Linked DNA regions of Homo sapiens: all the other regions are linked to region 1. Evidence: fine-mapped expression QTL. A gene starts in region 1. Each other region holds a variant in brackets. All regions are shown on one strand. Distances are between the middles of the regions. Region 1 holds the start of HACD4 (3-hydroxyacyl-CoA dehydratase 4). Region 2 has its middle 5.0 kb from the start of IFNB1. Region 3 overlaps HACD4 (3-hydroxyacyl-CoA dehydratase 4).

Region 1 (8,188 bases):
CCACCTCTCATGCTCCTTTGCAATCCCTCCCTTTTTTCATTCCTCTTCACTATCTATCCTCAGACAGCCACTTATTTTCCTTCTATCAGTGATGATTAGTTTCCACTTTCTAGAGCCTTAAATAAGTAGAATCATACAGTATCTATTCTTTTTTTTTCTGGCTTCTGACATTCAGTTTGATTATTTTGAATTTCATCCATGTTATTGCTTGTATCAGTAGTTCACTTCTTTTTACTGCTGAGTTGGATTTCATTGTACAGTTATGCCATAATTTATTTATCCATTCATCTGTTTATGGAAATTTGGGTTGTTTTCAGTTTTTGGCTATTAAAAATAAAGCTGCTTATGAGAATCCCCATTGTGGCACATCTTCACTAACACTTGTGGTGGTTAACTCTTTTTCATCTTAGCCATCTTTATCAGTGTGTAGCGATATCTCATTGTGGTTTTATTTTCATTTCCATAATTACTAATTATTTTGACCATACTTTTATGTTCTTTCTTTGTCTCTTACTTGGTTATGTGTGTTTTCAAATCTTTTGCCTATTTTGGGGGGGTTTATTGTCTTCCAATTATTGAGTTTTGAGAGTTCTGTATATATTTGCAAACAAGTTCTTTATTAGTTATGCGATTTTTAAATATTTTCTTCTACTATATAGCTTCTTTTCACTCACTTGAAAGTGTCTTTTGAAGGCCAGAAGTAGCTAAGAAATGCTTGCTTAGCTATCTAAGAGGGCTTCTTAGATGAAATACCTAAGAAATCTCTACCTAACCCAAGGTCACAAAGAGTTTTATTCTGTGTTTTCTTTGAGGGAGAGGAGTGACCTCTGAAAACTCAAGGTGCTGAAAATAAAAAAGAATTTATTTTGTAGCCAGTCTGTTACTGCCATGAAATATATTTCAAGGTTTTAGCCTCCCAGATGGTGCTCTTTGGGATGAAAACAAATTGAAGCATTTGCCCAAGGAAAACAAAATTGACATGTTCGAATAATTTTAAAATTTCTTCTAAAGATTAGAATATATTAATTCAGTTGTTATCTTGGACTCTGACTTCTTCTGTACCAGTGGATAACTGAAAGTTGAATATACATACTTCAGTAATGTAACTATCACTGAATGTTTTGTTTTGGGTTAAAATTTTGGGAATAGAAAACTCATACTAGATTTAATTCATTCATCCAACATATTTATGGATACTTACTATGCCAAGCACTGTACTAGGGGCTTTTATCCATTTTCATCTATAAATTTTATTATTTGATCTTTCTAATAACTGTGTGCTTTTGGCAAAAGAAACTTCATTTTTAAAGGTTAAAAGTTGTCAAATTCTCACTGTTAGTGAGAGAGAAGCCTCTGAGAATCTATAATCTAGTTAAATAGTCAAGTACCTTGACAACAACAATACCCTAAGATAAATACCAACATAGACATACGTTAGCCTATGTGACTCCCAGAGGGGATCTTTGGGAAGGCTTTTAAAGAATGAATAGAATTTTGACAGGTAAGTACTGGGCTGTGATAAGGGGAGGAGGTAGAATAGAAAAAGTAGACGGGAAATTTTTCACAGAGGCACATTGGCCAGAGAATGCCTGGTGTGGTCATGGAACAGCAGGTTGCTGTGATTTTTGGTAAGGGGATAGGATGGTAGGAGATGTCAGCATGTGACAGGTTTAGGGGCAAGAAGAGATATACTGTAGCAGGCAACGGGGAGTCAGCAAAAGATTTAGACCAGGAGAATGGCTACATCAGAACTGTGTTTTAAGAAATATTTTTGCCATCCTTAAATAATCTATGGCAGTCTGGGTAGAAGGAGGAAAGAGATTGGAGGCAGGGAGGCTGGGGGAGGCCATCTTGATAATGCTGGCAGGACGTGGGCAGGACTGGGAACTGACCAGGGGAAAGGGAGAATTTCACTTTTCATACAAAATGTTCTCTCCTAAGCTCTTTTTGTACTCTTTCCTTGGGAAATAACGTAGAATCAGCTAACTGCTTGATTTGAAAGGATTTTTTATTTTTCGACTGATTGGCTTGTTCTTTTTTGGCAACTAAAAAGGGCCTCTTTTTGTGCAGCAGAAAGATATAACCCAAGACGCTCCAGAAAGTCAACTGAGTTATGATGTAAAGAATGGATGTGAGGGAGGCCAATTACTCCTCACCCAGGTACTGGAAAATAAGGAATGGACAAAGAACACTACTGATTAGTAGGAGATCTGGAAAGGATGGGATCAATCGAATTTGATTGGATGGGGTGCTTAATGATGACTCCCCAATTTAAAATCAAGTGGCTAGAAAAATGGTGGTCTTTCTGTGGGAAATAATGATTTAGGAAGAGAGATAGTATGCTTATTTTAAATAGGTTGAATTGGAAGACGTTCCAAAGATAGTCCAAACAATAGGACTTTCATGAGGAAATATCCAAAAGCTGCTCAAAGGCCAGAGATAGTATTCATAAAAGAAGAAAGGGCTGAAAATAATAGTCAAAAGTTGTCCACATGGAGATAAAGCCATGTGTGGTTGTCTATGCTGAGGGATAACATGGTGACAAATGGATGGTGACTAAGGGCAGACTTTTGAGGAAATACAGCAGGAGAAGAAGACCCATCCAGAGAGACAGAAGGGACATAAGGCAAGAGACGTAGAATATGTAGAACTTCAGGGGTAAATGGCAGACAGACAGAACTGGTAAAATGCAGCAGACCTGTCAATGAGGATGTGGATGCAGGGGCTGTGTTTGGTGACAAAGGATCAATTCTTCTGGGCAGGCTTTCCACCTTCTCCCTCCTGCCCCACTGCAGGCCATCTGGGACTTTACTTTCTCTCTTGCTGCTTAACCTGATCAGAGATAGCATTGATAATGGGTTAGCCACCAGTTTACCCTTTAGATCAAATGTTCTGTAAAAGCAAGGACCGTGGGGCATCATCCTGCAAGGTGATACAGGATAGGGATTCGGCGAAAAATTAACATGCTCGCGGACGGAGCAGTGTCAGGAGAGTCAAACTGTAAGGTATTATGGAACAGGAAGATGGTAGGAAATGAAAGAAGCACCTGATCAGAGAAGGCAGGCAGGGAGTTATTAGAAGATTCCATTGAGAGAGAAACAGAAAGAATACAATGTTTAATTATATGCTAAGAGAGAGTTGTCTATGTCCCTAAAGTGCAGTGAAAGCCAATGGAAAGGAGGGGATGACGATGCAAGAAGAGGCGATGGTTAACTACTGATGCAGTGAGTCTGAGAAGGGACTGGTAAACACAAAGTTGGGGTTAACCTCCGACTGAGGGCAGGGTATGAGAGAAGGTGCAGAGAAATGTAGAGGTGAGAGGTAGGCATAGTGAATGGAATGGACTATGAAAAAAGGAAGCCACGGCCTAATGGGAAACAAACAAGAAATCCCACCAACCTTGAAGTTCTGATACTGCCATTTTATCAATTGTGTGACCTGTGCCAAGTGACTTAACATTTTTTTAATGCCTCAACTTCCCTTTTGGTAAAAATGGGGGCGCTAACTTCCAACTCCAAAACCAGGTGCCATTGTCCCACTTACTTGCAAGTGCCTTCTTAGATGTTTCTGTTTTTGTTTTAACGTTTCCCTTTCTGGGCAGAGGAGCTTGAAGATGGGCTGGATCTTATTAGCAAAGCAGGAGGGTGGGTCATCTGTGTACGGAGACAGTGATGTCATAAGCCTGAGAGATCACGAAGGGGTTGTAGCAGTGCTGGGCATAGGCTAGAGAAATTAACACAACGTGAATAAAGATTTGCAGGCACCAGTGAGAACCCAAGGGAGATTAGAGAGCAGGGAGGCCTGATAGAAGAGGAATCAGGCCCCTAGCTGAAAAAGTGTTGGGGAGGTGTGCTACAAACTTCGTTTTATTTTTATTTATTTTTTGAGACAGGATCTCGCTCTGTTACCCAGGCTGGAGTGTAGCCGCGTGATCTTGGCTCATTGCAGCCTCGACCTCCCAGGCTCAAGCGATCCTCCCACCTCAGCCTCTGGAGTAGCTGGGACCACAGGCCCGCGTCACCATGCCCGACTAATTTTTGTACATTTAGTAGAGACGCGTTTTCGCTATGTTGCCCAGGCTGGTCTCGAACTCCTGGGCTCAAAAGATCCTCCCGCCTCGGCCTCCCAAAGTGCTGGGATTATAGGCATTAGCCACTGCGCCCGGCACAAGCTTCGTGTCTGAACCTGGCTCACCGGTGGGCATTGAGCAGAGCCCACCCTGGAATCCACTCATCTCGGGAGGTTTGGGGATGGGCTTCAGCGAGTTCGGAGGCCCCGGAAATCGCCCAGATGCATTAATTTCCAGAAGGCTTGCAAGGGGGTCTCAACACAAAGATTAGGAAGCTGTAACCAGAGTTTGGTAACCCCACCGGGAACGCGAGCCGCCTCCCAGCCTTGCGCCCTGACGCGCTCTAGCAGTGCTGCAGAAACTTCGAGAACTTCGTTTTCATCTCTTCCCCAACGCACGACCTCGGGCTTTTTCTTTTTGTAAACTGCTGAGTGTGGAGAGGCCCCGCCCTTCCGCGCCCAGCCGCGGGGCCGCCCCTGCCTCCTCCCCGGTACTCCTTCCTGGACCGCGCTGGAAGCCCTGGCGGCGGCGGCCCATGGGGCCCTTGGCGCTGCCCGCCTGGCTGCAGCCCAGGTAGGGCGCTCGGCCGAATCCCGAGGGGAGGGGGCGCGGGTGGAGGGCCTGGAGGCGGGAGCTCCCCTCTGCGGCGGGCGGGCGGGCGGCACCCCCCGCCCGCCAGCAAGGCGCAGCGCTACCGTGCCCAGGCACCCCTTGGAGCTCATGCAGGTATTTGCTAACTTACCCCTCTTGACCACCCTAGGAAGCAGGCTCTGTTATTTTCTCCATTTTACAGTTGAATGGGAAGGACAGGCTGCATGGCTACCCCTGCCCTTGTGAGCCCTCTGCCAGTACTTCCCTCCCCCCAGGAGCCTTCTCTTGACTTTCTCAGACGCAGAGTTGCGGGGTGATTTTTAGATGTAACAGCCGTGGAAACACCTATCACACGTATAGATTTCAGGGCCTAGTTCCGGCGGGGAACAGATTCAGTCATATAGCGGTAGGGCCTGGGGGTGTATATGTTTAACCCACAAGCCAGGTAATTCTGATACAAGCTGAAGGAGGATTTCCTCTTCCCAAACCCTTTAGCAGTTCCTGCCTTTATAGGGGAGGATGTCCCCAAATAAAAATCATTCTGCCTCCCAGCTTATTTTCCTTGTTTCTAGGAGGTTTCACATCTTCAAGGAGGAGTAAATCTTGACCACACTGGCAGGGCCACTCCCGTCACTCTTCTGAACTCCCAGGGAACATTTCAAACAGTGCTTTTCCTAACTCCCTCAAACCATCTATCTGTCAATCTTCTCTTAGTCATCTCCCCAGCAACTCACAACACATTGTTAAACCCAGCTTGACTTCCCTCTTCTGGTATGAGCAACTAAACTGCTTTCGATATGTATCTGATGAAGGAAACTATCTACCCTTGCAAAATGTTAATAGGCAGTGGCAAGATGTTAATACTAACCTCAATCACATAATGTGTTCAAAAGTCAGGTGTGTCCAATTACTGAATTACCCAACATTTGGATTACTCCCATCCCTACCCCCCTTCAGAACTAAAACACTGTGTCTCAAGTTCTGCACTTAGCAAGCTGAGCTACTGGAACACATAGTGACATGTCAACCACTCTGCACACATGGATTTTTTGTTGTTGTTGTTGTTTTGTTTTTTATTTTTTATTTATTTTTGAGAACAGAGTTTTGATCTGTCGCCCAGGCTGGAGTGCAGTGGCGCTGTCTCGGTTCACTGCAGCCTCTACCTCCCAGGTTCAAGTGATTGTCCTGCCTCAGCCTCCTGAGCAGCTAGGTAGCTGGGATTACAGGCATACGTTACCACATCCGGCTTTTTTTTTTTTTTTTTTGTAAGTTGCCATGTTGGCCAGGCTGGTCTTGAACTTCTGGCCTCAAGTGATCCAACCCGCCTTGGCCTCCCAAAGTGCTGGGATTACATGCCTGAGCCACCGCGCCCAGCCTGTTTTGTTTTTTTAAAGAATATTCAAAGCCACCTTCGCAGTGGTTTCTTTTATTCCTTGGTGAGCAGCAAGGTTAGAACTTTATCAAAGATGAAAGCAGATTTTGAAAAAGCACTATATTTGGTTTTAAGCAAACTCACTATACAGATGGTCCATGACTCACAATTTTTTAAACTTTGTGATGGTGTGAAAATGATATGTATTCATTAGAAACCGTACTTCAAATTTTGGATTTTAATCTTTCCCCAGGCTAGCGATGTGCAGGTATGATATCCTTTCATGATGCTGGGCCGCGGCATCAGGCCGCAGCTCCCAGTCGGCCGCATGATCAGGAAGGTAAACAACCGGTACTCCACAGTGCACTGTGTTGCCAGATGATTCCACCCAACTGTAAGCTAATGTAGGTGTTCTGAGCAAGTTTAAGGTAGACTAGGCTAAGCTGTGATGTTCTGTAGATCAGTTGTATTACATGCATTTTCAACTTATGATATTTTCAGTTTATGATATTTTCAGCTGATGGGGTGTACCAGGACGTAACTTCATCATAAGTGAAGAAGCATCTGTATTTACTTTAGCGGGTAGTGTAGGTTATGGCTCCCTTCAAAATCTGATATGTACTTGGGGGTAACCAGATAAAAGACTGATATGAAACAGTTTTCTTTTGCTTTCTCAGGTTGGCCAGTACATTAAAGGGCATGTGTACAGTGATGAAAGGATGATTATAAAAGAAGTGTTTAATGGTATTTTCCTGTATTTATAGGTATAGGAAGAATGCGTATCTTTTCATCTATTACTTAATCCAGTTCTGTGGCCACTCTTGGATATTTACAAATATGACAGTCAGATTCTTTTCATTTGGAAAAGGTAAAACTCCGAAACAGTTTTTTTATTTTTAACTTTTAATCCTTGTTTTCACCTCATCCTGCTTATATTAAATTTCTACACACCTCAACCTTCTAATATCCTTCTCTAAAATTTGTATTTTTTAGCAACCATGTTTATTGCAAAACCTTCTTGGGGAAGGGGGAAGGTGGGATAAGTAAGGGAAAGGGATTTGGCTTCCCCCTGAGTTGGCAGTTTGCCTCAAAAAAGAGATGGATGGCACTGAGGTGGTATCATTTCATTGTTCCTTTTCCATTCTGTACCAAACCTTAGCAGATTTCTAGTGTTTTGAGGAAATCTCAGCATAACATTTTATGCAGAGAAATCAGGAATGAATCAAATTCTTCCAGTGTTTGTATTATTCCCCAGGTTTGAGGTAACTGGAGACTACTAGTAAGTGAAATACAAATTTTATATTCCCCAAGCCTCTATTTGGTCCCTTTAAGAAGTAATATGTAAATGACACACTTTGTAGAGGGCTAACCACTTATATAGGAGTCAGCATTAATGGTTTAAGTCATAAACTTCCTCTAGTTTCCTGAAAAGTAAAGTCACTGTTGGGTGACTAAATGACTATCAAAATAACATTCTCTTCATGTTCCATCCGCACGTGGGTAAGTGTCCTCACAGTTTACAACTGTTGAGTGACTTGACAATCTAAGCAACTGCTGGCTTCAGCTAAAAACAAATGTTTAGAATGTAGCTGGGAAAAGTCATGCTGTGCTCATCATTTCAGACGTGTGTATCATAAGGAAGTTATTCTACTTGCAGGGTCCCATAAGCTATTTTATGTTGCTTTTTCTTACTGAAAATCTACAGATATAGTCTCGCCTTTGTTAAGGACCTCCAAAGATATAACCTAAAGCTTGAGTTTCAACTACAAATGTTGAGAGTTTTCAAGCACAGGAAAACACAGGTGATGGGAAAACTTCTTTTATATTTTTATTAAAAAGCCATCACTTCTAGCCCTTTGAGGTTTGCTGAGGCAGTGCAGGCATATTACATGTCATTGGCAACACAAGCCATGGACTGGCTTATGCTGTCTCACCTTTCCAGTGAGAAAAGTTGCCTTAGTCATCAAGTATTTCTTTTTCTTTTCTTTCTTTTTTTTTCTTTTCTTTTTTCTTTTTTTTTTTTTTTTGAGATGGAGTTTCCCTCTTGTCGCCCAGGCTGGAGTGCAATGGTACGATGTCACCTCACTGCAACCTCTGTCTCCCAGGTTCAAGTGATTCTCCTGCCTCAGTTCCCTGAGTAGCTGGGATTACAGGTG
Region 2 (8,188 bases), 41 kb before region 1:
AAAATATACCTGCAAAGTAGTATACTTTCTGGCCCCTGCCTTTAAGGAATTTAAAATTCAAGAAAGCCATGTGGAATATATAAGGTAAGAGACAATAAGGGGACCTGAACCTTATGGGGGAATAAATATGGCATGAACTGCTGTGGGATTAAAAGAGAAAAGGAAAGCTGGAGGGTCTGGAACTAAACCTGGGGTTCCCATTCCTCCTACTGTGTGCTCCAGATTCTCTCATCATAAAGTTAGAATTGAGCTGGCCATCAGGAATAGCCAGAGGAATATGTCAGCTTTTGTGTTCTCCCTAACCTTCCCACGTTATTTGGGGGATACTTTGCTCCTCGAAAGATTTTTAAATAATTATGTGCCCCCCACCATCCCTGCAAGCTTAAGGGTGAGAAGTCCCATTTACTTCCATGACACTATTAAGCAGCAATCTCTTTATTCTGCTCATCATGGGACAGCCAAGATGTGTGGGTATCTTAGGGGAGCTGTGGGTCCCTGTCTGCTGGCATGGCACAGGCATCAGAGGAAGAAGAACCTTTTTATACCCTAGCCATCTGGTTAGTTTTCTCCCTAGTTTTTCAAAAAACTAAGCCTGCTTCCAGTCCCCACTGCCTTGTTCATACAGAATTCCAGGAATGTCCTGTCCAGTTTTCTGTTGCTCTGCATTGCGGACGCCACATAGTTCCTAAAGCCAAATGAAAGAGGTGCAGCAGTTTAAGTCCAGTTTCAAACCAAGCAAAAAGCCAGGAAACATAGGAGAAAGGGAAGTTTAGGTGGGATAGAGAGGGCATTAATTTTTCCCAGGGCTTACACCGGGAAAAAAATCAAGCTTTTCTAGGAGCTCTTTGGGCACCTGGTCAGCATGGACTGACTGGTTAGGTTTTTGTCTTTGTACCAAAACTCGGGAACTTGGGTTATAGTGGCTATTACTGCCATTAGCAGTTGCTGTTTACTGAGAAATTCTAATGAAATAGGCACTGTGCTGAGATCCCACATAGATAATCGGATTTAATCTTCTCCACAAGCACCCCTCAGGTAGGCACAAGTACATTATTGCCATTTTACAGGAGAGGAAACTAAATCTCAAAGAAATTTAGTAACTGCCCATGGTCACATAATGATTTCATTCAGTCTCTAGTGAATGGAGATTTTAAAAAGAAGTTCAAAGAGAAGCATCATAAAAGTCTTTATTTGTATCTAGGCATTTTTTCCTAGAGCAGTAAAGAAATCTGAATTCCTTTTAAAAGAAGCAGCTTTCAGGAGAAGTAATCTGTTCATTAAGAGTTCCAGAGAAGCTACTATTGTGTAGACAATGAACTCAGGGCTCCCCCTTCCAGTTCAAAGTGGATAACACACACACGGGCTATGCAAACAAGAAATGTCATCATGGGGGGCCTGCTGCCATTGACTCAAACCAGTCAAGCCCCCCTCAAGCTTCATCCTTCCCCCAGCTCTCCACCCCTGCTCTGCCAAAAGCCCTTCTGTAGCCGAACTCCTCTTTTTCCTGGAGTCAAGGACAAGATCAGCAAGTAGCAATGCGGAGTCCAGGCAGTGTCTAGAGCAGCCAAGAGGAAACTAAAGAAATCTCTCTCAGCAATGGGCCCCTATTGTCCACTGCTTTCTCTGAGCTGAACTGCTAAACTGGCCCAGAAACTGGCAAGTTCTTGAAAAGACCTGCTCTACCTCCGTGTTGGGGCAAGAATGACAGGAGAGAGGCCACTTCTGCAGAATTAGAAATACTGTATCACAGCTTAGCATGTCAACCCATCCAGAATGCCAAAAATAAGTCCATAACCAGTAGAAGATAAGTAACAATTAAAATTAATTCCAATAAAAATGAAGGCAACTAGCCCAAAGGTGCACATTTGCATGTGCTGAACCGATGACTAGGCATGAGGAATAAAGTAAAATAATAATATTACTTTGGCTGGCACCAGAATAAGGTCTTAAGGAAAACACTCTTTGTTTAGAAAAATATCTAATGAGTCTGTAGAAAAATATCTAATGAGGCTTCACTCAATATCTAGTGAGATTTTGAGGTTATGGGTGTGGCAACGGAAAAGACAGTAAAATATCAATAGCATGTTTTGTGTGTCAGCTTTTAAGGAGAAAGGAGACAGACAGAAATCCCCCAAAGCTCTGGAACTGTGACACTACGTGGAACAAGTCAGACAATGAAAATTTTGCTGGTGGGAATGAAAAAAGAATTTTCCAAACAGCGTAGCTCATGTGCAGCATGAAATTGTGTGCGCTGATGTATTGAAACTCTGTCCGACATCATCTCCAAAACTTCAATAAAAATGGCTACCACAAAAAGTCCTCTGCGTAAAACCTCTGTGTACAAATCATAGAAAGTGCCCGGTCTCATGTTTGAACAAACATGGGGTGGCCAGATCTTCATAGATGAACCAAATTAGAAGAAACAGGAGGCAAAACAATGACAACACAGCCACCTTCCCCCTTCCCATATCACACCTTAGGAATCCACAAAGCTGGATTAGGAGATGGAACTGTCTTATCTAGCTCTTGAACAGTAAGAAGGCACTGGTGAACATCTGGGTTACATACAAATATATGAATTTTGCTTAAATATATGAACATGCAGATGCAGGGCAATATCAGCACACATTTGTATAGTCTTTTTTGCAGTCAACAAAGGTGTTATTTAGGCATTTTAGGTGGCATTAAACACGTTCAAGTATTCAGATAACATCTGATCAGGAACTTATTCATAAAATACTCTTAAGAAAATGAAAAGAACATGCCACAGACTGGGAGAAAGTATTTGCAAATCACATATCTGATAGAAGACTCATCTCCAGAATATACTTTTTAAAATCTCTGAAAACTCAATAATAACAAAACCACTAATAAAACAATAAAATACATAATAAATAAAATAATAAAAATGGATAATATATTGGAACAGATGCTTCATCAAAGAAGACATGCAAATAGCAAATTAGTATATTAACATGGTAAAATCTTTCTCAAGGATTGTTGGTGGTGTAGGTCAGATAATGAATGTGAAATGATTTGGTCCCAGGGGAGCCCTTTCCATCATGGGGACCTGCCATAGCTTCTGTCCTTTCTGAGCAAAGTTCACCAGCCCTCTTGGCCAAGCTCTATTTCTGATGCATGAGAGGTCTGCCAAGCACAGACTGTGGGGGCCCTCATCAACATGGATTTCTTCTTGACGGGTTTGGCTGTGGGAAACACAGAGAGAGCCAGCATCTGGTAATAGAGTCAGAAGATGAATGTCACCCAGAGCCATACCTTGTTGACTGCAGACATTTTCTCTAAACACATTGCACTGGTGCTTGCTGAGCCTAAAAAATGAACTGTTTTATGAGTCCTTTTGTTCTCAACATTAATTGTTGCTTTTTAAACATTAGTTTAATTGCCTAAAATTTACTAGGATAGTTTAAGACAAACTCAAAAATTGGACTAGTAGTGCCAGCACAAAATTATACTCTCCTAATTTAGTAGGATCCATTTAACCATTTAACTCGTTAATTGACCTGATGG[A/G]GAGTACTCCAAAAACATGTTCACATCATAGTTATCACCAAATCAGACAATTATGTTTCAGTTATTATTCTGTTTTGACATTCATGTAGAGGGTGTTCCTAGAAAACCTATAACGCATTATTCAAATTATATCCCCCAACAATTAGCCTACGAATTTTTAAAAAAATGGAGCCCACTTCAAAGGACTCTCTTAAGAGGATTAAAAGACAGGTCACAGACTGAGAGAATATATTTGCAAGTCACCTCTCTGATAAAGAAGTTGTATTGATATGTAAAGAATTCTCAAGATTCAGTGATAAGAAAGCAAATAACCCACTAAAAGACAAACAGAAGATTTCAACACATATTTCAGGAAAGAAGGTACAGAGATGGCAAACAAGACAGGAAAGGACCAATAACGTTAACCTTTAATGTAATGCAAATTAAACAACAATAAGACACTGCTACATACTTATTAGAATGGCTGAAGTTAAAAGGACTCACCATATCAAGGATTGGCAAAGATGTGGAGCAACTAGAACTTTCAAAAAGTGGTCCAATGACTTTGGAAAACCATTTTTGCAGTTTTTAAAAAAGGTAATCATATACCTACCACATGATCCAACCAGTCGACTCCCTAGTACTTATCCAAGAGAAAAGAAAGGATTCTTTTCTGTGTATAAACATTCATATACACAGACTTGTATATGAATGTTTGTGGGAGCTTTGTTTGTCCATCACAAATGGATGATTAAAGAAATTGTAGTATATCCATACAATGGAATATTATTCAACAATAAAAAGGAATGAATCATTGATACACACAATAACATGGATGAATCTCCAAAAAAATTATGCTGAATACAAAAGGGCCAGGCACAGTGGCTATGCCTATAATCCCAGCACTTTGGAAGGCTGAGGCAGGCAGATCCCCTGAGGTCAGGAGTTCAAGACCAGCCTGGACAACATGGTGAAACCCCATCTCTGTAAAAATACAAAAATTAGAGGGCAGGATAGCGATTGCCTGTAATCCGAGCTATTCGGGAGGCCAAGGCGGGAGAGTCACTTGAACCCAGGAGGCGGAGGTTGTAGTGAGCGGAGATTGTACCAATGCACTCCAGCCTGGGTGACAGGGCGAGACTCCATCTCAAAAAAAAAAAGAAAAGAAAAGAGACCAAAAAGGAATAAATTTTGTATTGGCCTATTTCTATAAAACTCTAGAAAGGAAAATTAATCTATAATGACAGAAAGCAGATTAGTGGTTACCTGGGGGTGGGGGCAGTAGTACTGAGGAGTGAGATGGAGGGAGAGATTACAAAGCAACACAAAGAAACTTTTGAGAGCGCAAGGACATTTTCACTATCTTGACTGTGTTGATGGTTTCAGGGGTGTATATACATGTTAAAACTTATCACAGTGTCCACTTTAAATATGTACAGTTTATTACATGTCATTGTACTTCACTGAAACCTCTCGAAAAATAAAAAAGTATAAATTTACTGAAAAATAAATAAAATGGAGCCAAAGCATCTTGTTGTGTTCCCTTGTTAAACTCAACATACATTGTTTGATGTCTTAAGATCTCTTTTATAAGACTCCAAGATGAGATTAAATCAACAGGCTCTTAGAAATAAAAAATTATCTTACAGTCTAAGTTCATTGTCAGTTAGAGGTTAGATTGTTAAAAGTTTTTACTTATGGCACATTTGCAATACTCCATATTTTAAATGATAGTCCAAGAAGTGGATCACGATCCCTGCGTGCTAAAACTATGGGGGGAAAAGCCAAGAGCACTTCACACATTGCATATCTGCACCAAGTGCAATACAAGTTACATATTACAAATTCCAGTGCTTAAGGAAATGATTTTTCCCATTTTCATATTGTGGCAAAATATACATAAAATGTAGCATTTAAACCTTTTTTAAGTTACATTTTAAGTTCTGTAACATTAAGTACATTCATATTGTCGTGCAACCATCACCACTATTCATCTCCAGAACTCTTTCATCTTTTTCATTTGCAACTCTGAAGCCATTAAACACCAACTCTTCATTTGTCCTTCTCCAAGCCCCTGGTAACCACCATTCTACTTTCTGTCTCTATGAATTTGACTACTCTTGGTACCTCATATGACTAATTATATAAACTTTGTCCTTTCGTGACTGGCTTATTCTTCTTAGTATAATATAATGTCTTCAGGTTTCATCTATGTTGTTGCATGTTTCTGAATTTCTTTCTGTTTTAAGGCTGTGTGTGTTTGTGTGTGTGTACCACATTTAGTTTATTCATTGGTCCATTGATGCATACTTAGTGTGCTTCCTTTTTTTGGCTATTGTGAATAATGCTGCTATGAATATGGGTATACAAATATCTATTCATGTCCCAGCTTTTACTTCTTGGGCTATATACCCAGATATAAAATTGCTGAATCATGCAGTAATTCCATATTTAATTTCATGAGAAATCATCAAGGCAACTATTTTTAACTTGTGTCTTCATAATGGAAATATTTGCAATGATAGTACAATGCAAACACAACAATAACAGCTACATTTCTTAAGGACTTACTTTCTGCAAGGGATCTGCTGAGGATGAACTAGCTAGCTAGCTAGCTAGCTCGATAGATGATAGTTAGAGAGATGGATGGATGGATGGATAGATAGATAGATAGATAGATAGATAGATAGATAGATAGATAGACAGACCATCTTATTTAATCATCCAGAGAACATCTATGAGGTAAGTATTGTTCTCTCCTTTTTATACATAAGAAAACTGAGGCTCAGTAAGGTTAAGTAACTTGACCAAATCCACAGTAGGTAAAGAACAGAGACATATTTGGAACCAGGGACTATACTCTTAACTACCTGTAATCATCTACTACCACCCAAAATGCTATTTTTACCCAACTACATAGCACAAATATTGCAATTTAGAGAAGGAACAAGAAGCTCTACTGCCCGGCAGCTCATGCACAGCACAACTCCTGGTTTTGCTCCAAGTGGGTGCACTAACGTCCAGTGGCCTGTGGGGATCTTTTGCAGAAAGGACTGCTGTCCTCACTCAAGCAGTTGGTCTCCTTCCATCCCCATGCAGAAGGGAACTCTCTCTCTCTTCCTTTTTCTAAAGAGAATAGCAGGAAATTCCCATTTGCTCCTTTGCCAGACTCTACGGAGAATATTTTCTCCAAAGGTTTTTGTAAGCAACTGTCTGAATCATGAGTCATCGTTTTTCCCTTGGCAAGGCTGCATTTCCTTCTCTTGAGCACTACATTTTTATCCATGTACTAGCAAGACAGCCCTGTGTGCAGTTTCCCTCTCAAGTCTGACACAAGCTGATTTTGTTATCTCACAGGAATGCTTAAAAACTAAAATGGCTTACATTACTTAATGGAAATACACAGCAAATTTCTCTTTCCTTTCACTTTTTAATTTCTTGGCTCATTTTCTTTTTATGAAAGTCCAGAGGTAAAACAAATAACTTTCAAAGCAGAAAATGATTTACTAATCTAGAAATGCATGAATTGAAAGTCTGTGCATTGAAAGTACAAAGTTTTTTTTTTTTTTTTTTTTTTTTTTTTAAGTTTCCTATACTCTGATGGCAAAAACACAGGGCATGAAATAATACAAACCTGAGAGCTACTGTGGGTTCTGCCACTTTGTACCAGTATGGTCTTGGGCAAGTTAAATAAATTAGAAACAATCATACCCCAAACTCTTCAAGATTTCTATGAGAAATAAATGCAAAAAATGGGATGTATGACTTGGTCCAACACAGGGCCTTGTAAATACCACGGGATCTCACTTACATGTAAAATCTAAAAATGTTAATCCCATGGAAACAGAGCATGGAATGATGGTTGCCAGAGCTGGGACAGTTGGGATGGGCAGGAGAGGGCTGGGGAGATGTTGGTCAAAAAATACAAAATTACAGTTACATAGGAGGAATAAGTTCAAAGGATCTATTGTACAGCATGGTGATTGTTAATGATAATATATTGTATTCTTGAAAAATGCTAAGGGAATGGGTGTTAAGTGTTTTCACCACAAAAAATAATAACTATGTGAGATAATGCACTTGTTAGCTAGATTTAACCATTTCACAATGTATGTATAGTTCAAAACCCCATGTTGTATGCAATAAATACATGCCATTTTTATCTGTCAATTTAAAAAATAAATTAAAATAATAAAATGCCATAGAAATATTCAAGGGTTATTAAAATAACTTCTTCCATTATATTTGTTATAAGCCTTATAAATAGTTTAAAGCATGATATATTTTATATTTGGCGAACTGGCTTTAGACCAATTGGTGTCTATCAGGCATATGTGGCACCTTAGCATCTATTAAGGAAGAGTAGGCCACACAAGGGAGGAAAGCAATATTCAATACAGCTTCCTCCCCTCCAGGCTGCAACGGGATCTCTCCTAAACTCCAATATACCTTTGAGTTCCATGGATTATTTTCCTACTATAAGCCACACCCCTGAAATAATAAATGTGGTATGCATGAAAAATTCATTTTCTTTCTGTTTATCTAAATTTGTTCTTATTTCTTATGGTTTAATTGTGTTTATTAAGTCGCAAGTGCTCAACCTCCCTGGGTTATATTATAATACTTTCTGTAATAGTTGACAAGGAAGGGTTCATTTTCAAATTGCTTCATTCAAAACCCT
Region 3 (8,188 bases), 24 kb after region 1:
GAAGGATGCCAAATAAAGATTTGGAAGTCACATTTTATTTTTAAATGAATTCCTGAGATATTTACAAGTATGTCTGTCATTAAAAAACCTAGCTGCTTGCTGCAAAAAATGAGCTTGGCTTTTTAATGAAATTGAAGTCACTAATCAAGGAAATTTGTAACTGTATTTTTCTGAGGAGGGAGTAAGAGTTACTTGCTCTGTTTAGCTTTATAATTATTAATGATCTACCACATGAGACAAGCCAGATTGACATGGTCCCTTTCCCCCATTTAAAAAAAACTCTTCCTTAAATTATAGGAAATAAAATATACAATTTGTACACTTTCCAGTTGTATCTCTGTATTTAATTACACAGTAGTTTCTCCTATTTCCCAGATATTAGCAGAAAATGATGTTTATGAGCTTCTCATCTCCTTTCAGGTACACTTATAGCATGTTATCAGTCATAGGAATATCCTATGCTGTCTTGACATGGCTCAGTCAAACACTATGGATGCCAATTTATCCTTTGTGTGTTCTTGCTGAAGGTAAGAAAAGAGTGACTTGCTGTATTGCTTACTGACAAAAGCCATCTAGTTATAATGGTTCACTAAATTTTTTGATGATTAAATTACTATTTTTGCGAATGCTTAGCTCACTCAGTGTATCCTTACTGGCATATTTCCCTTGATGCAAAGAGGCAAAGTTGAAGAGGGAAGCAGCTCTGCACAGTAGACAAAATACTGGACAAAAAGCAACGGCATCTGAGGCCTTCACTTCATTAACTCACTGTGTGAGTTTTGGGTAACTCATTTAACCTCTCAGAGTCTGCTTATTCACCAAAAAGAAGTTAACATTTAGAGATTCTATGATTTTTAACTTTTAATGCACAGAAATTCAGTCCCCTCTGGTGAGTCTTTCCCACTTACCATTTACTATGTATCCTACCCTCTCTCAGCAACTAGTTAACTCTACCTTGAGATTAATCATCATTTTCTGAGGGAGGCATTCCCTGACTTCCTCAACTGAGTTCCCCTGGGTACAGTATCATGAATCTTTTATAGCAGGGGCCCCCAAACTAGGCCATGATCCCAGTCTGTGGCCCATTAAGAACCAGGCCGCATACCAGGAGGTGAGCAGTAGGCTAGCAGGTGAAGCTTCATCTGTATTTATAGCCACTCACCATTGCCCACATTATCGCCTGAGCTCTACCTCCTGTCAGATCAGTGGAGGCATCAGATTCTTATTGGAGCACAAACCCTGTTGTGAACTGTGCATGTGAGGGATCTAGGTTGTGTGCTCCTTATGAGAATCTAATGCCTGATGATCTTTCACTGTCTCCCATCACCCCCAGATGAAACCATCTAGTTGCAGGAAAATAAGCTCAGGGCTCCCACTGATTCTGCATTATGGTGAGTTGTATAATTATTTTGTTCTTACAATGTAATAATAATACAAATAAAGTACACAATAAATGTTGTGTGCTTGAACCATCCTGAAACCATCCTTCTTCCTCTGGTCTGTGGAAAAACTGTCTTCCACAAAACCAGTAACTGGTGCCAAAAAGGTTGGGGACTGCTGTCTTAACAGGGCTTATATCAGCATAATTACACATTTGTATGATTCTTTGATTAATGTCCATTTCCTTGACTAGACTGTAAGCTCTGGGGGGGGGGGGGGTACCAGGATGTCTGAGTCTGTTTCTTTGCTTCCTTCCTCTCTTTTATGCACCAGTATACATGCTCAATGAACACAGAATGAATTATTGAGTATGAGTAGGCTAATTATATAGCCTAAATATAAACCTAAAACTTAAGATCAAATCATTCAGATCATCAGTCAGCAGAGCTTGAGGATATTTGGAGAATATATGCTTTCTTCTGCAATGGATTTGGTAGACTGGTAAGGAGCATTCTGTAAGACATGATTAAAGTTTTCAAAACTGAAGACATAAAATAAGAAAGCATGTTAAGGTAACTAAGGGAAAAACATAAGGACATGGTGTTTAACATAAAATGATGACGACATTAACAATAACCAAAGTATATAAAAGCCAGTTATAAAACAAAAACACATATTTTCTATCTACTGATGAGCAGATAAAAAGAGCTTGTTACTGTAAATCATGTTAGAATTTCTAAATTTGTTTTGATTCAAAAGGAAGAATTATTAATTTTGGAATAGACTATGCCAAGTGGATCTAAAGAATAATTGTCTTGAAAACAGTAAGAACCTGATTGTCCATTCTTTAAGAATCAAGTAACCTCTCATTGAAATATCAAATACATTATCTTTGTTAAATCATAGTACTGTAGAGAATATAGAAAGGAAATTGGGAGCTGTTGGTCAAAGGGTACAAAGTTTGTTAGGAGGAATACATTTTTGAGATCTAGTGCACAGCAGGGTGACTGTGCTTAATAATGTATATTTCAAAATAGCCAAGAGTACATTTCAAATCTCACCACGAAAAGTAAGCGAGGTGGTAGATATGTTAATTAGCTTGATTTAATCATTCCACATTGTACACATATATCAAAATATCACATTGTGCTTCATATATGTATACAATTATGATTTGCCAATTAAAACTTAATCAAATTTAAAAGAATATATAAAGGAATAAGGTAGAAATATGACTAATCCCTTCCTAGGAATAAGGGGTGGATAAATGTATAGGAAACTTTTGCATTCTTGTTATTCCATAATTCTAATCCTTGTCTTTTCTAGGAAAGCCATGTTCTTATATGGTTGCCATACAACCCTTATTCTTTTATTAACTTCATAAACTTATTCTTGCAATTACAAAATAAGGTATATGCAGAAAATAGTCTAGAGATATATATGACAAAAATGTCAATAATGCTCTGGATGGTGGAATACAGATAATTGTAATTTTATCTTTCTGTGTTTCTGTATATGTTAGATGTCCCAAAGTATAAAACTGCGCAGTTAAATAAACCTACTAAACTTTCGATAACTTTAATTTTAATAATTTTAATAACTATAATTTCCCATCTGACAGATATAAGACAAAAACAAAGCTTATGTAAATAACAAAATCAACTAATTATACTGATAAAATGCTAGAGACATAGGTGCGGCCTGTGTTAACCTTAAACTGCATATTTGGTGTCAGTGGCAGATCCTTCACTGATGCTACTCATACCTCTGCTTGGCTCTAACAGTTGTGAACTCTTGCCTTTTCTTCATCTTTCTCTTTTTAAAAACTTTTTATGTAGGGATAATTTTGACCCATAAGAAATTGCAAAAATAGTGCACCATTCCCATGTACCCTTCACCCAGCTTACCCTAATGATAACATCTTACATCATGTTAGCATATTAACATTTCATTGCATGAAATGTTACCAAAAATATCTATACATGGGATACAATGTTACTGAACTTTAATCTTTTTTTTACCTGATACCAGCCCCCTCCCTCAAAATAATTTAGGCCAGCATTTCTCATAGAGTTCTTCAAAATACTTATTAAATACTACTGGTGGTTAAGAAGGAAGAAGGAGATATTCTAAGGCCAGTTACATTGAGGAAAGGCTAGGTGGTATTTTTTTATTACAGAATTTCTCACAATGTTAATATGTGTTCTACTATGTTAATGTGTGTTGTGAAACTCTAAGAGGAAAATATATGCACCATTTTCCAAGTTCATCTCTCTATCACCCCTATTTGTGGCTAGGTGGACAAATGTATTTTGAGATAACATTTTAAGAAACATTGTAAATTCTTCTGTAGGCAC[A/G]ATAAGGTATACCATGGACAAACATTCAACAAGTCATACTGCTGTAAGCACCTTGCCAACTTAATCATTTCACAGATTTCTATATTAAACTAGGTTTAGCAAAAAGATTCAGCAACTATTACAAAACTGTCATTATCAAATTCAAAATATCCTACAACTATGAAGACATATATACACATCCCTGTAACAACTTAAGGAGGAATACCTTTATGATGCCTTTCTTTTTTAACAGCATTTGCCATCTATCAATCGCTGCCTTATTTTGAATCATTTGGCACTTATTCCACCAAGCTGCCCTTTGACTTATCCATCTATTTCCCATATGTGCTGAAAATATATCTCATGATGCTCTTTATAGGTAAGTGGCTTTTTTGGTCTTGTTTTTGCATTTTTCCTGTACTTTTTGGTTAGTGCTTGCCGTCTACCTTAATATACAGGTTGGTAAACATGGGAGAGACCAAAGAGGAAGCCTGACATCATGAACTAGATCTTGCTAGTAAAGCCCCTGGAGGTTATAATGCTTTTTGCAGGGCATCATGGGATCATATATTTCACTTTCACTGTACAAATAAGAACAATTTTACTATCAGAAAATATAGCTGCATTATGTATGAGATATAGAAGTTTTGACCATGTGCACAGGTATCTACAAATAAAACCTAGATGTCAAACTAAGAAGAATTGGCTATTTCTGATGTTTCCATTTATATCCATTTTGTTTCTTGTTTGTTTGGCTTTTCAAGCTGGCACTTCCTATCAGGCAAATGGGAGTCGGTGTTACAGACTCAAGAGAAATGTATGGAACAAAAACTTACCCTTGAATAAATTTGATCATTAAACCTAATCATTTTCCAGGAAATTGGGGAAAAAACTTTCACTATTAAATTTTTGTTTTCCCAGCTCTAACCTTCACAAATCTCCAAAATAATGATTATCTCTAGAAGGTAACAGATATCAAACATATGAACAACATATAGAGAGAAAAGACAAAAATGTGAAACTTTAGAGGAAGGTGGAGAGAGCTATGCTAAAGAAAGGAAGACAATTCCTTGCATTAAAAAAAGTAGGATGGAAGAGTTTGATTTACCTCTCTTTCTGCATAAAATCTGGACACTTCTTTAAACATTCCTTCTCACATCTCCCTTGCAAGTGTCTTCTCCCTGGATTTGGGCAGCACTCTGACTGTATTTTAAAAGCATTGTTTCTTCCAGAGAAATAGTTAACCTTACTTACTTTTGCAACTTCTTTCTCCATATTAGGTATGTATTTTACCTACAGTCATCTATACTCAGAAAGAAGAGACATCCTCGGAATCTTTCCCATTAAAAAAAAGAAGATGTGAAGTACAGCATTCCAGTGTGACACGAGAAAAGACAGGCTGTGGATTCAGTGCAGTAAATAAAACACAGGAAGTATTCTGGTGGAAAAATACCTTGTATTTGATAAAAATCCATTACATGAAATAACTGCACATACCCCCAAAACTCTAGACATAACAGGCTATGTTTTTCACACATTGTATTTTTAAGACATATATATTCTCCATACCCTGCTTCACCAAAATTCCTGCTTCATTTGGATTTTATACAAGTTATACTTACATTGTATGAAGTCTGATTATTTTCCTGTAAGTTTAATGAGAAATAGGAGATTAGCTGCAATAGATTCAATTAAATTAAGAAACCAAACTTGATAACCTAAATTACATGTATTCTTTTTCACTTCCAAGTTCCCAAATAGATCTGTAGGAGAAGAGGGATGGAAAATATATTCCACAGTTGCCTAGAATAACATATTTCATAGACAGATGTCTGTCTTCAGATCTAATAATACTCACCCTAAACATTAGATATGTTTAGAAAATTAAATATCTTTCCAAGCCCTATGTCTTAGCTCAGGTTGCTATAATAGAACACCATAAACCGAATGGCTTAAACAACAGCAAACGCTTCTCACAGTTCTGGAGGCTGGGAATTCCGCTCAGGATCAAGGCATCAGCTAATGCAGTTTCTGGTGAGGGCCCTCTTCCCAGTTTGCAGATAGATGTCCTTCTTTGTCCTCACATGAGAGAGAGATCAACTCTCTTATGTCTCTTATAATGGCACTAACCCCATTCATGAGGGCTCTACCCTCATGATCTAATTACCTCCCAATGGCCCCACCTCCAAATACCATCATATTGGAGGTTAGGGCTTAACACATGAATTTTGGGGGAACACAAAGATTCACTCCATAGCATTCTGTACCTGGTCCTACAAAATTCATGTCCTCCTCACATGCAAAATACATACATTCCATCTCGACAGCCTCAAAAGTCTTAACTCATTCCTGCATCAACTCTAAAGTCCAAAGTCTCGTCTAAATCAGATGTGGGTGAGATTCAAGGTAGAATTCATCCTGAGGTAAAATTCCTTTCCAGCTTTGAACTTGTGAAATGAAACAAGTTATGTGCTTCCACAGTACAATGGTGGGACACACAAAGGGTGGACATTCCTATTCCCAAAGCAAGAAACAGGAAAAAAGGAAGGTGTAATGGGTCCCCAGCAAGTCCAAAACCTAGCAAGGCAAACACCATGAGATCTTCAGTCTTAGTAATAATCCTCTTTGGCCTGATACTCTGGCTTCAGGACCCAGTGAGGCAGAGGTATTGCCCCCAGGACTATGTTGGAGGAGGATGACCCCCATATCACCAGGCGGAAGCTGTCAGGCCTGTTGAAACCAAGGCAATGACTGCCCCTTTTGAAACTGAGAAGGTACCACTGATGTTCTCTGAATCATTGTTCCGGGTCAGTTTCTCCTTTTCTTGAAGAATAGTGTACATTCACAGCTGAATAGCTCTATGGTCCCAAATTCAAGAAGTCCAACAGTCTTCCCTCATTCTGTCCCATCTCCATTCCTTTCAATACAAACTAGCAGTGTTCCTGCTGGGGTGGCTGATTAGGTCTGTGGTTCACACCCACATAAATCTAATTGGATGACTTGTCTGCTACACTCTTAGTGTTCTCTACCAAACGTGTTTTCTTATCTTTTTGTAATGCAGACAGACTGATAATTTCCCACATCTTTTAAGTTCTGGTTCCGTTTTTGTTAAGAATTCTGTCTTCATTTTTTGTCACATTTTACTTTAAGCAGTCAAGATAAACCGAGGCACTCCTTCAACACTGGTTGGAGATCTCTTCAGTTCAATATCTAATTTCATGGCTCACAATTTTACTTTCCACAAAACACTAGAACATGAACACAATCATCCAAGTTCTTTGGCATATTATAACAAAGATCACCTTTCTTCCAGTTTCCCATAACAGGTTCCTCATTTTCATTTGAGACTTCATCAGAATGGCCTTTATTGTCCATGTCTACCAACATTATCTTCATGGTGATTTACGTGTTCTCTATGAAGATGGAGGCTTTCTCTCCCACCCTCTTCTCTTTGAGCCCTCACCAAAATCACCTCTATCAATCCCTTCATGGCAATACTGGCTTTTTCTAGCAAAAAAACTAGTACCTCAAAACTCTTCCAGTACTCTTCCAGGTACTCTAGTACCTCAAAACTCTTCCAGCTTCTATCTGTTACCTAACGTCAAAGCTGCTTCCACATCTTTATATATTGGTTATAGCATCACCACACTTCTTGGTACTAATTGCTGTCTTAGCTTGGCTGCTATAACAAAATACCATAAACTGGGTGGCTTAGACAACAAATATATTTCTCACAGTTCTGGAGGCAGGGAAGTCCAAGATAAAGGTGCTAGACAATTAAGTTCCTGATGAGGTTCCAAGGTGCTAGCTGATTCTTCTTCATGGTTTGCAGATGAATGCCTTCTTGCTATATGTTCACATGGTGGAGGGAGAAACCATCTCTCCCTTATTTCTTATTGTAAAGGTACTAATCCCATTTATGAAGGTTCCAGCTTCAAATGCCATCACACTGGAGATTAGATTTTCAACATGTGAATTTAATGGGGGACACCAGCATTCAGTCCCTAGTGCTCTGATAGAGTATTCATTAATGTCATGTATTTGTTAACATCTTGTAAGTTATTTGGGCTTTGATGCCTTAAAAGAAGACCCTGGCCAGGCATGCTGGCTCATACCTGTAATCCTAGCACTATGAGAGGCTGAGGTGGGCAGATCAGTTGAGGTCAGGAGTTCAAGACCAGCCTGGCCAACATGGTGAAACCCCATTTCTACTAAAAATACAAAAATTAGCCAGGCATGGTGGCGCATGCCTGTAATCCCAGCTACACGGGAGGCTGGGGGCATGAGAATCGCTTGAGCCCAGGAGATGGAGGTTGCAGTGAGCAGAGATTGAGCCACTGCACTCCAGCCTGGGTGACAGAGTGAGACTCTATCTCAAAAGAGAAGACCCTAATGAAAATAGTAAACCTTTAGCAAATACACAAATGATGCCCCATTCTGTATTCTTTTTAATTTTAAAAATAATGACACAC

What was found. PIP is the estimated chance that this variant, and not a neighbour inherited with it, causes the effect.
Region 2: its variant is the best candidate, but not a certain one, in a credible set for the expression of HACD4 in whole blood (INTERVAL, PIP 0.88).
Region 3: its variant is the best candidate, but not a certain one, in a credible set for the expression of HACD4 in CD4 T cells (BLUEPRINT, PIP 0.73).

What each region holds. Positions count from the first base shown.
Region 1 is chr9:21,028,007-21,036,194 of GRCh38, reverse strand. It overlaps HACD4 (3-hydroxyacyl-CoA dehydratase 4), which reads left to right and starts at 4,555. Exons shown (of 7, transcript NM_001010915.5): 1 at 4,555-4,642; 2 at 6,797-6,900. The coding sequence starts at 4,605. LOC105375989 (a long non-coding RNA gene) reads right to left here and starts at 4,553. Exons shown (of 3, transcript XR_007061435.1): 1 at 4,195-4,553; 2 at 3,544-3,723; 3 at 2,276-2,832. RefSeq lists an enhancer at 4,216-4,776 and a silencer at 4,420-4,779.
Region 2 is chr9:21,068,836-21,077,023 of GRCh38, reverse strand. No RefSeq gene overlaps it. Among named protein-coding and RNA genes, the nearest start is that of IFNB1, 5.0 kb to the left of the region's middle. The variant A/G (reference allele first, on the strand shown) is at 3,529.
Region 3 is chr9:21,003,928-21,012,115 of GRCh38, reverse strand. HACD4 (3-hydroxyacyl-CoA dehydratase 4) reads left to right here. Exons shown (of 7, transcript NM_001010915.5): 5 at 421-527; 6 at 3,970-4,095; 7 at 4,997-8,188. The coding sequence ends at 5,079. Among named protein-coding and RNA genes, the nearest start is that of HACD4, 24 kb to the left of the region's middle. The variant A/G (reference allele first, on the strand shown) is at 3,738.